2 separate regions of the Homo sapiens genome follow, and region 2 is linked to region 1. Evidence: fine-mapped expression QTL. A gene starts in region 1. The other region holds a variant in brackets. All regions are shown on one strand. Distances are between the middles of the regions. Region 1 holds the start of RAB3GAP1 (RAB3 GTPase activating protein catalytic subunit 1). Region 2 overlaps RAB3GAP1 (RAB3 GTPase activating protein catalytic subunit 1).

The links. PIP is the estimated chance that this variant, and not a neighbour inherited with it, causes the effect. A credible set is the group of variants that fine-mapping cannot tell apart.
Region 2: its variant is the best candidate, but not a certain one, in a credible set for the expression of RAB3GAP1 in monocytes (Quach 2016, PIP 0.79).

Annotation. Positions count from the first base shown.
Region 1 is chr2:135,049,002-135,054,383 of GRCh38, reverse strand. RAB3GAP1 (RAB3 GTPase activating protein catalytic subunit 1) reads right to left here and starts at 2,092. Exons shown (of 24, transcript NM_012233.3): 1 at 2,059-2,092; 2 at 1,899-1,954. The coding sequence starts at 2,076. RefSeq lists an enhancer at 1,380-1,519.
Region 2 is chr2:135,100,267-135,105,648 of GRCh38, reverse strand. The region is part of intron 5 of RAB3GAP1 (RAB3 GTPase activating protein catalytic subunit 1); the gene reads right to left. Among named protein-coding and RNA genes, the nearest start is that of SNORA40B, 34 kb to the left of the region's middle. The variant TC/C (reference allele first, on the strand shown) is at 2,642.

The sequences.
Region 1 (5,382 bases):
CTACATCATGTCCTAAAACCACTTTCATCATATCACCTGGCCACTCTAAAACGAAGGGTCTCTCACTATTGTCTTAAGCAGTGGTTCTTTCTAAGTGTGGTCTCCTGACCAGCAGCATCTGAATTACCTGAGACCGTGTTACACAAGCAAAATTTTCAGTCCCACCTCAGACCTACAGAATCAGAAACTCTGAGGATGGGGCCCAGCAATCTAAGACTCTGATGTACATTAAAGTATGAGAATCACTGGTCATAGGAATACTGAATCTGGATTCCTGTATTTAGTTTGGGAAGATGTCCATAACCCAATCCCGTCTTCCTTGTTAACCTTATTTATTTCCCTTCAATAGACAGTCTTCACTCTAGTGAAGATATATTTCTTCATTCAGTCCCTTCAAAGATTCATTCTCACCTATGTCTCTACCCATGTCAGTCCATTCTCATGTTTAACCAACCACTTCCCACTTTCAAGGCCCAGCTCATTTCCTATCTTTTCTATGAAAATATCTCCAACTATTGTAGTCCACAATATCACCCCTATTTAAATAATAATTATTTTAATTATTATTTTTACAGGTAGTACCAACTGGCTTACATTTTAACTATTTGCTGTTTGTTGTTTTTTAAAAATATATGGGTCAAGTTTCTGCTTTTCCCTTTGTATATAGCTCTGGACACCCAGTACCTACTCAATGAAGTCTTGCCAGTGTGGTTATGTCTTACTGACACTTTTATGAAGGGTACCACAGGTCTAACTATTATTCCAACAAGGACCTTTTATATTTTCCTGTGCCACCTAATGACACGACATCCACAAATTTCCTCTCCCAACCAGAAAGATTATAAAATGCTGTAACAGCGTAAACACTGACTTCAACACCCAGGAAACTGAAGGGTTTCTGTGACACTTAACAGAAACCTTCTCGATCTAAGCTATCACTCCTCCACAAACTTGGCTTTCAACTAATTTCAGTAATAGAACAGTTTCACCCAGACAGCTGTTCATCTGAATTTGACAGGCACAGGAAGCCTGGGCACAGTACCCACTTTAATGTAACAACTTAAATCAAAGCATTCCAAAACCATATGCAGACTTTTTAAAAAGGTTATTCTAAAAGACAGGATGGGCGGAGGCTCACGCCTGTAATCTCAGCACTTTGGGCGGCCCAGGCTTGAGCCCAGGAGTTCAAGACTAGCCTGGGCAACACAGCGAGATCTTTAAAAAATTAGTTGGGCGTAATAGCGCGTGCCTGTGGTCCCAGCTCCTCCCGAGGCTAAAGCGGGAGCTTCACTTGAGCCTAGGAGTTCGAGGCCGCAGTAAGCTATGACCTCGCCACTGCACTCCGGCCTGGGCGGACAGACTGAGACTCTGTCTCCAAAAATAAATAAAAATAAAAAATTAAAGACAGCATGGAGATGGTGGGAGTGTGACAGATGGACAACTACCAATACTCTGAAGAAAGACTTCCTCCTGAAAAGGGTATACCAACGTACACGGGATGAGGTGCGGCACAACCTACCAAGTTTACTGCTTACGATAATGAGTTAAACGGTAATGAAAACCGGAACGGTTGTTGCAGCCTCGGAAATTTTTCTTGCGAGTGGGTAACAACCAGAAAACCAAAGTCTAAGGGAAGCGGTCTGACAGGAGAGAAAACAAAACTTTCTGAGAGCCTGAGCCTCAGGGATTGGCTGACGGGGGCGGGCCGGGTGTTGCCAGACGCGAGACGCGGAAGAGGCTTGCGGTTGACCAAAGAAGACTGGGGGAGGAGACCCGGGACCCACGGTATTACCGTTCCCGCACAAGTGGCGTCACTTGTGGTGTGTCTGGGGTCAGGGAAGCGGCTAGGGGACGCCAGGGCCCATGGGAGCTGGTAACCAAAAATGCGATTCACTCACCTTTCCCATTCCGAGGCAGTGGTGAAGTCCGTGATCTCAAATACCTCGGATTCGGGCTGCGGGAAGGGGAAGGAGAGAAAAAGAAATTAAGCCCCAAGGCGAAGACATGAGGAACGAATTTAGATAGTGACAAGGATTAAGTAGGGAGCAAAGAAATCACCTCACTGTCGGCAGCCATCTTGAGGAGCGCCGGGCCTGGCGCTAAGGCTGCCGGGAAGAAGAGCGAAAGAGAACGGGGCGCGTCCCCGCCCCCGGAGCCCCCGCCCCCTGTTCATGAGTCTTGCCCTAGTAAGTAGGAGTGCTGCTTCTTCGCCCAGGTCTGTTAAGTCTTTAGTCCGCCCTCAGCTGGTTAATAAAACTCCGCTCTAGCTGGTTTCATAAAACTTGAAAATTTCCTGTGATGAATACAGAAAGGGAACAGAAGCCAAGGTGATAGGACAAGACCCTAAACTCATGTGGATAAGATTGTATTAAAAAACCTAAAGCATGTTGGGTTTGTTTTCATTCAACCCATATTTGTAGTTAGTACCAATTAGCTTACACTTTAACTATTGGGTTTCTTTTCATTCACCCTCTATTTATTGATTGTAAGGCAATAAACTAGGTGCTGTAATACCACTTCTACCCTCTGCCCCTGACCCTGCAAGAAGTTGCTCAGTTGATTGTCCTGAAATAAAATCATACTAGTTACCTGGTTTCTGGGAAGAGCAACATGGTGTTCAACAAACGCTTCATTTTTTTTTTTTTTTTTTTTTTTTTTTTTTTTTTTTTGAGACGGAGTCTTGCTCTGTCGCCCAGGCTGGAGTGCAGTGGCACGATCTTGGCTCACTGCAAGCTCCGCCTCCCGGGTTCACGCCATTCTCCTGCCTCAGCCTCCCGAGTAGCCGGGACCACAGGCGCTCGCCACCACGCCCGGCTAATTTTTTGTATTTTTAGTAGAGATGAGGTTTCATCGTGTTAGCCAGGATGGTCTCGATCTCCTGACCTCATGATCTGCCCACCTCGGTTCTGTCGCCAGGCTGGAGTGCAGTGGCGCGATTTCGGCTCACTGCAATCTCTGCCTCCTGGGTTCAAGTGATTCTCATGCCTCAGCCTCCCGAGTAGCTGGGATTACAGGCATGCGCCACAACACCCAGCTAATTTTTGTATTTTTGGTAGAGATGGGGTTTCACCATGTTGGCCAGGATGGTCCCGATCTCCTGACCTTGTGATCCGCCCCCCTCGGCCTCCCAAAGTGCTGGGATTACAGGTGTGAGCCACTGTGCCTGGCCTTGTCTTTATTTTAACACCTTCAAGTTATTTATATATATTCTGCATCTGAGCTTTATATTGTTTATATATGTAGCAAATACCTTCTCCCACTCTGCAGCTTGCTTTTTCACTATTTTTTTTTCAGACTGGTGCTCTAAAAAAGCAGACACTACAATTCCAAGCTGGCGAAGTCTCTGAAGTCCAACTGGAAGTGCTAGGGCAAAAATTATGCATCAGGAAATGCGTAGCCCCTTGTACTACTGCCTTGCTCCGTCAATCATTGGCCAGGATCTCCCCAAGAAAACAGTGGCCTTGGCTATCACTGTTTGCTCAGTTTTTGGCTGGAGGAAGCACTCCAAGAATAGCAGGTCCTTGGCTCAACAGTTAGACAAACCTGATAAACCCAACAGCCGTAGGCTGTTCATCTAACCACACGCCTTACAGCTGGGCAGTGAGTCTTTCTTTAAGGGAGGTCTGAGCAGCACATCTTTTGTGTCTGCCACTCTCTTTTAATAGACAGCCTCTTTTAACATGCACCTACAATGTTTTCGACATCCTGTGCTTTCTCTTTCCTCTGGACATGCTGTCGTTTAGAATCTGCAATGTCCTTGTGTCTATAGTTTACCTGGTAAAATTTGTCCTTCAAGTTTCAGCTTGGATATTTGCTCTTCTGTGAAGACTTTCTCTGCCCCCTGTTAGGAGCTTATTTGTATTTGCAACCAGTTTGGTGGTAATCGATTGGATTCTCACTCAAAATTCATATGTTGAAGCCCTAACTCCTAGTACCTCAAAATGTGACTGTATTTATGGACAGGGTGTTTAAAGAGGTGATTAAGTTAAAATTAGGCCGCTAGAGTGGGCCCTAATCCAATCTGACTAGTGTCCTTATGAGAAGAGATTAGGACACCAGGGATGTGCACACACAGAGGAAAGGCCATGTGGGGACACAGAGAGTAGGTGGCCACCTGCAAACCAAGGAGAGAGGCCTCAGGAGAAACCCAACCTGCTGATACCTTGGTCGTGGGCTTCTAGTCTTCAGAGCTGTGAGCAAATAAAAAAATATTTTTTTGAGATGGAGTCTTGCTCTGTCACCCAGGCTGGAATGCAGTGGTGAGATCTTGGCTCACTGCAACGTTCACCTGCCAGATTCAAGCAATTTTCCAGCCTCAGCCTTCTGAGTAGCTGGGATTACAGGCATGTGCCACCACATCCAGCTAATTTTTGTATTTTTAGTAGAGACAGCATTTCACCTTATTGGCCAGACTGGTCTCAAACTCCTGACCTCAGGTGATCAACCCTCCTCGGCCTCCCAGAGTGCTGGGATTACAGGTGTGAACCACGGCGCCCAGCCCTGTGAGCAAATAAATTTTTGTTGTTTAAGCCTTCCAGTCTGTGGCATTTTGTTCAAGCAGCCCTAGGCAAACATACATCCCCCACCCTCAACCCAGGAAGTCAGACACTCCCCTTCCATGCTTCCTTAGAGCTTTTGACACAGCCCTAGGGCAGCCTGATATTGTCCTTGTTTTGTATGCCTATCCCTCCACTATTTCTAAACATTGAGTTTCTTGAAAAAGAGAATGGTTTGAATGACTCTATCTCAAAATGAGAGACAAAAGGAGGATTCCTTTTTTGTTTAAAGACAGGATGTCTTTCTGTTTCCCAGGCTGGAGTGAAGTGGCATGATCATAGCTCACTGCAGCCTCAAACTCTTGGACTCAACCAATCCTCCTGCCTCAGACTCCTGAGTAGCTGAAACTACAGGTGCCCACCACCACGTCCAGCAATTTTTTCTATTTTTTGCAGAGACATGGTCTCACTATGTTGCTCAGGCTGGTCTCAAACAACTAAGCTCAAGCAATCCTCCTACCTTGGCCTCCCAAAGTGCTGGGATTACAGGCGTGAGCCACTGCGCATAGCCAGAAGATTACATTTTTTGGGGGGGGTGGGAACGGAGTCTTGCTCACTCTGTCACCCAGGCTGGAGTGCAGTGGCACAATCCCGACTCACTGTAACCTCCGCCTCCTGGGTTCAAAGCAATTCTGCCTCAGCCTCCCGAGTAGCTGGGATTACAGGCACTAGCCACCACACCCGGCTAATTTTTTTTTTTGAGATGGAGTCTTGCTCAGTCGCCCAGGCTGGAGTGCAGTGGTGCGATCTCGGCTCACTGCAAGCTCCGCCTCCCAGGTTCACGCCATTATCCTGACTCAGCCTCCCGAGTAGCTGGGACTACAGG
Region 2 (5,382 bases), 51 kb before region 1:
GGCCGGGCAGAGGCTGCTATCTCAGCACTTTGGGAGGCCAAGGCAGGCGGCTGGGAGGTGGAGGTTGTAGCGAGCCGAGATCACGCCACTGCACTCCAGCCTGGGCAACATTGAGCACTGAGTGAACGAGACTCCGTCTGCAATCCCGGCACCTCCAGAGGCCGAGGCTGGCAGATCACTCGCGGTTAGGAGCTGGAGACCAGCCCGGCCAACAGAGTGAAACCCCGTCTCCACCAAAAAAATACGAAAACCAGTCAGGCGTGGTGGCACGTGCCTGCAATCCCAGGCACTCGGCAGGCTGAGGCAGGAGAATCAGGCAGGGAGGTTGCAGTGAGCCGAGATGGCGGCAGTACAGTCCAGGTTCGGCTTGGCATCAGAGGGAGACCATGGAGAGAGGGGGAGGGGGAAGGGGGGAGCGGGAGGGGGAAGGGGGAGGGGGAGAGGGAAGGGGGAGAGGGAGAGGGAGAGGGAGAGCTCACATTTGTTTTTCTACCACTTTCTTTCTCTTCACCTGGGAGTCCCATTACATGCATGCTTTGGAACACTTGACACTGACCCACAGATCTCAGAAGTTCTGTTTTTTCTCCAAACTTTTTTCTCTGTTCTTTGGACTGGACAATTTCTGTTAATCTTTCAAATCCCCCAACTCTTTCTTCTATCATCTCAGATCTGCTTTTGAGCCCATGTGAAGAAAGTTCATTTCAATTATACTTTTCAACTCTGGAGTTTCCATTTGTTTTTTTGTTTGTTTGTTTGTTTTGAGATGGAGTTTCGCTCTGTTGCCCAGGCTGGAGTGCCGTGGCAGTATCTCAACTTACTGCGGCCTCCGCCTCCTGGGTTCAAGTGATTCTCCTATCTCAGCCTCCTGAGTAGCTGAGACCATGGGCACATACCACCACACCCAGCTAATTTTATTTATTTATTTATTTATTTATTTATTTATTTATTTTGTATTTTTAGTAGAGACAGGGTTTCACCATGTTGTCCAGGCTGGTCTTGAACTCTTGACCTCAAGTGATCTGCCCACCTCAGCCTCCCAAAATGGTGGCATTACAGGCATGAGCCACCACGCCTGGCCGCCATTTGGTTCTTTATTACAGTTTCTATTTATTGAGATTCCTATGTAACTCACTGTTAGTATTTCTTTGAAAACCCTTTCCTTCAATTCTCTCAACATACTTGTAATAAATATTTTGATGTTATTGCTAAATCTAATATCTAGACCCACTAAGAGTCCATTTCTACTATTTTTTCCCCTTGTATGGGTCACACTTTTCTGTTTCATTGTACATCTAGTAATTTGTGGTTGAAAACTCTATATTTTGATAATACATTGTAGCAAGACCATATTCTGTTTAACTTTTCTGAGGGTTGTTAGCTTTTTCAATTTGTTTGTATTTCATAACTTGCCTGGACTTACACTGAGGAAACTGTCTCCTCAACAGTGTGCAGCCTCTGATATCTCTATTCCATTGCTTTATTCTTATTTTCAATGTTTTAGCCTGGCTCTCTAGCAGCTACCTCTTGTCTGTATAGTTTGCAGGTAAACCAATAATTTGAGCACAGATCATGCCCAAACACCTGAGCCTATAAGGTTTTCCTTTCACTTTCTGCTAAATGATCTGTGTGTGGGTTGGGGAATGCATTCAAAATTGCAACTGGCACTCCAGTTTGAGCTCTGCTGGGTCTCTCCTGCATATATGTAGTTTTCCTGTCATCTACGGATGTGTAGAGAGGGTATCTGTCTTTCTATGGCTGTAATACAAGATCTCCTTGTTAAATTTTTGACTAATCCATCACTTGCCTCGAATTGGGACTGCAACCTTGGTCTAACAAAGGTACAGGTTTTACCCATCTGTTCCCAACAGAATCTGTTCCTTTTGCTTGGCAAAGGCAAAAGTTTTTGTACCTTCCCTCCCCCGCCAACAAAGAATTAAACCTGCTCATCTGGCAACAGAGGTGGTATTTTCATGGCCAGCCTAGACTAGAAAGCTCAGTTATCACCAACATAGATTAGAGAGAAGAGGGGAGGTGACAGAAACAGCTACAGGAAGAGGAGCCAGAAATGGTTGTTTTTTGACAGTTCTGTCCAGTTTAATGCCTTTTAAAAAAATTCCCCTTTAGCAAAGAGGAATCACTAACCACTTCACACTGCCATTACAAGAAGTCCTCTTAACATTCACTTTTGGAAGAATGAAAACACTTTACAGGTCCTTAGGGCTAGTCTAAAATGCTGGTTTCTCAAAACTGTCAGGTTCTTTTACATGTATCTCTATTACCAGGAAAAAAATACATTAAAGTCACAAAAATAAGGCTGGGCACGGTGGCTCGTGCCTGTAATCCTAGCACTTTGGGAGGCCATGGTGGGCAGAGTGCCTGAGCTCAGGAGTTCAAGACCAGCCTGGGCAACACATTGAAACCCCATCTCTACTAAAATACTAAAAATTAGCCAGGCTTGGTGGCATATGCCTGTAATCCCATCTACTCGGGAGGCTGAGGCAGGAGAACTGCTTGAACCCAGGAGGCAGAGGTTGCAGTGAGCCAAGATTTCGCCACTGCACTCCAGCCTGGCAATACAGCGAGACTCCGTCTCAAAAAAAAAAAAAAAAAAAATCACAAAAATGATTTTTTTTTTTTTTTT[TC/C]AGACGGAGTCTCGCACTGTCGCCCAGTCTGGTGTGCGATCTTGACTTGCTGCAACCTCTGCCTACCGGGTTCAGGCAATTCTCCTGCCTCAACCTCCCAAGTAGCTGGGACTACAGGTGTGCGCCACCACGCCCGGCTAATTTTTGTTATTTTTAGTAGAGACGAGGTTTCACTATGTTGGCCAGGCTGGTCTCGAAATCCTGACCTCGTGATCCGCCCGCCTTGGCATCCCATAGTGCTGGGATTACAGGCATGAGCCACCGTGCCCAGACAAAAATGAATATTTCTTAAAAGCCATAATAATTATTCAACTACACAGTTTTCACAAGATTATTTGTGGACTGTTCCTTTGTGGTGACCAATAAAGCATGACTAAAGCTAAAGACCCAAAGACAACGCTCAACAAAGGCAGAGCCATGGGGACAAAATGTGTCCTCCCTTAAACCTAGCTGTGCTTTCAGTGTATTGTTCCACTCTCAGTAGAGCCTCTCCAGGCATCTACAGCTTTCATGCTGTTACTTTCTGTATTAGTTCATATTGCTGCTGTAATAAATTACTACAAATTTGGTGACTTAAAAAAACACAGATTGATCATCTTATAGTTCTGCAGGTCAGAAGTCTGAAACAGGTCTCACAAGGCTAAATTCAAGGTAGCTGCAAGGCTGTGTCCCTTCGGGATGCTCTAGCGCAGAACCCATTCCAGTTTCTAGAGGCTTACCCTCATTACTTGGCTCATGGCCCTCTTCTTCCATCTTAAAAACCTACATTACTGGGACCAAGTTCTTCTCATACCGCTATGACACTAACTCTCCTCTGTCTCCCTCTTCCACTTTTAAGAACTCCTGTGATTATACTGGGTCCACCCAGATAATCCAGGATAAATCTCCCTACCTTAAAGTCTATTGCTAAGCAATGTTAATGTTAATGCTCCCTTAATTCCTCTTGCCACATAACTTATATCCACAGGTTCTAAGATTTAGGTTGTGGACCATCTCTGGGGGCTAGCAGGGTTCATTATCTTGCCTACCACACCTTGCTATTAAAATCTCTGCTCATGAATTTCCATTTGGACATAAATGTTTGCTACGGTTAAAGTCTGTGTCATTTCCAGGGCTATTTATATTATCATGAAGCATAACAATCAAGAGAATAAATCTGTAATGATGGTTTCAGGAAACACCCACTAGAAGATATTTAAAGAAAATAAAAAAAGAAAAGTATTTAAAGGATAGGTATATCAGAAGGCTGAAATACATCCAGCAAAACACATCATTAAGATCAATTACATTGCCAAGAACATAAAATTGATCATGCCCACATATCTTTTAAAGTCCACTTTTATAAAAGTCCCTTAACAAAGTTAAACAGGCTTGGAGCTAATCTGAGAGGTGCTTGATATGAAAACTGAAACGAGAAGATCTTAAAATAGATAAAGATTAATAGACAAACTCGAACTACCAAAATTGAGCATTGGACATAAATCCCAAAAATCTATTTTCTAGAATTTGATTTGAAAATATAAGTTAATCATATAGTAATTTTAAATCACTCTGACAGGGTCAACCTATACTAATTGTATATTTATGGTATAAATAAGTACAGATGCATATATTGCAAAATCGTTTTCAAATTTTCATTGTCATTGCTTTAATTCTGGTTTAACTTTTTAAAATTCAAATTTAAATAAATGTTTAGGTGAAAACTTCTGTGTATGTTATTCTTCAGTATCTCTGAAGCATTACAAGTAATCTGTATCCTTGAAATTTTTGAGAAATGTATTTATTAACAATTACAATAAAAATTATATGAATAAAACAGAAGGAGAATATTATGAAATCCTCTTAAGATGTCTGGTTCACATTAGTCTTAAAATACCCACATACCAAAGTCCTTCTCATCTTTTCCCATTCCCAACCCTCTACTGCTATACCCAACCTTACCAAACTACCTACAAGTTTCAAAAGTGCATTTAAACATCATCACCTCTACTAATTCTGCCTCAAGTATCTTTTTACCTAACTTATTAATTAAGCTTATTCACCTGGTTTATTCTCACTTGTCTTTCAGGATTCATGTGAGGTATCACCTTGTCTGGAAACATTTTCCTGACTTAATCTGTCTGAATTACAGGTACCTCCTATGAGTTTCCATCAAACTTGTGTTCTGCCTCCTATGAGAGCATTTATCACAAAATGTTATTGTTGTCTACTCCCTTATCTATTAATCCCATAGATTACTAAGGCAGTAACCATGTTTTATTCTTGATATTTCTGTATCTGGATCACAGTAAATGTTTAAAAATTATATTTGTTGAATAAAAGAAAATACACATACATTTAATATGCTTAACTTTTAAACAGTTCTCAAAAGCTTTGTTGTTGGCTTCCTAAACTTTAAGAAAGGTCAAGTAAGACAAAACTGAAAGTGACTTCCAACCATACGGCAAACTAACATGACACAGGCCCTCCTTGTCCCAAAACACACAGAAATACCTGATCAAATATGACAATGCTGTCAAAATACACCGCTGAATTTGAAATAATAAAAAGGAGATTCCTGGGTAACAGAAACAAAGAGTATACTGAAAGGCAAAAGCGAGCATAGAAGGTGACTGAAAAATACCAGGGGATGATCAGCTTTGGCTATAGGCCCTAACAGCTGGGCACTGGGAGCTGGGATTTTATAGGGTAAGCCTTTTACTGCTGAAAGTCTGTTAGTTTGACTTATAAAACTGTTTGC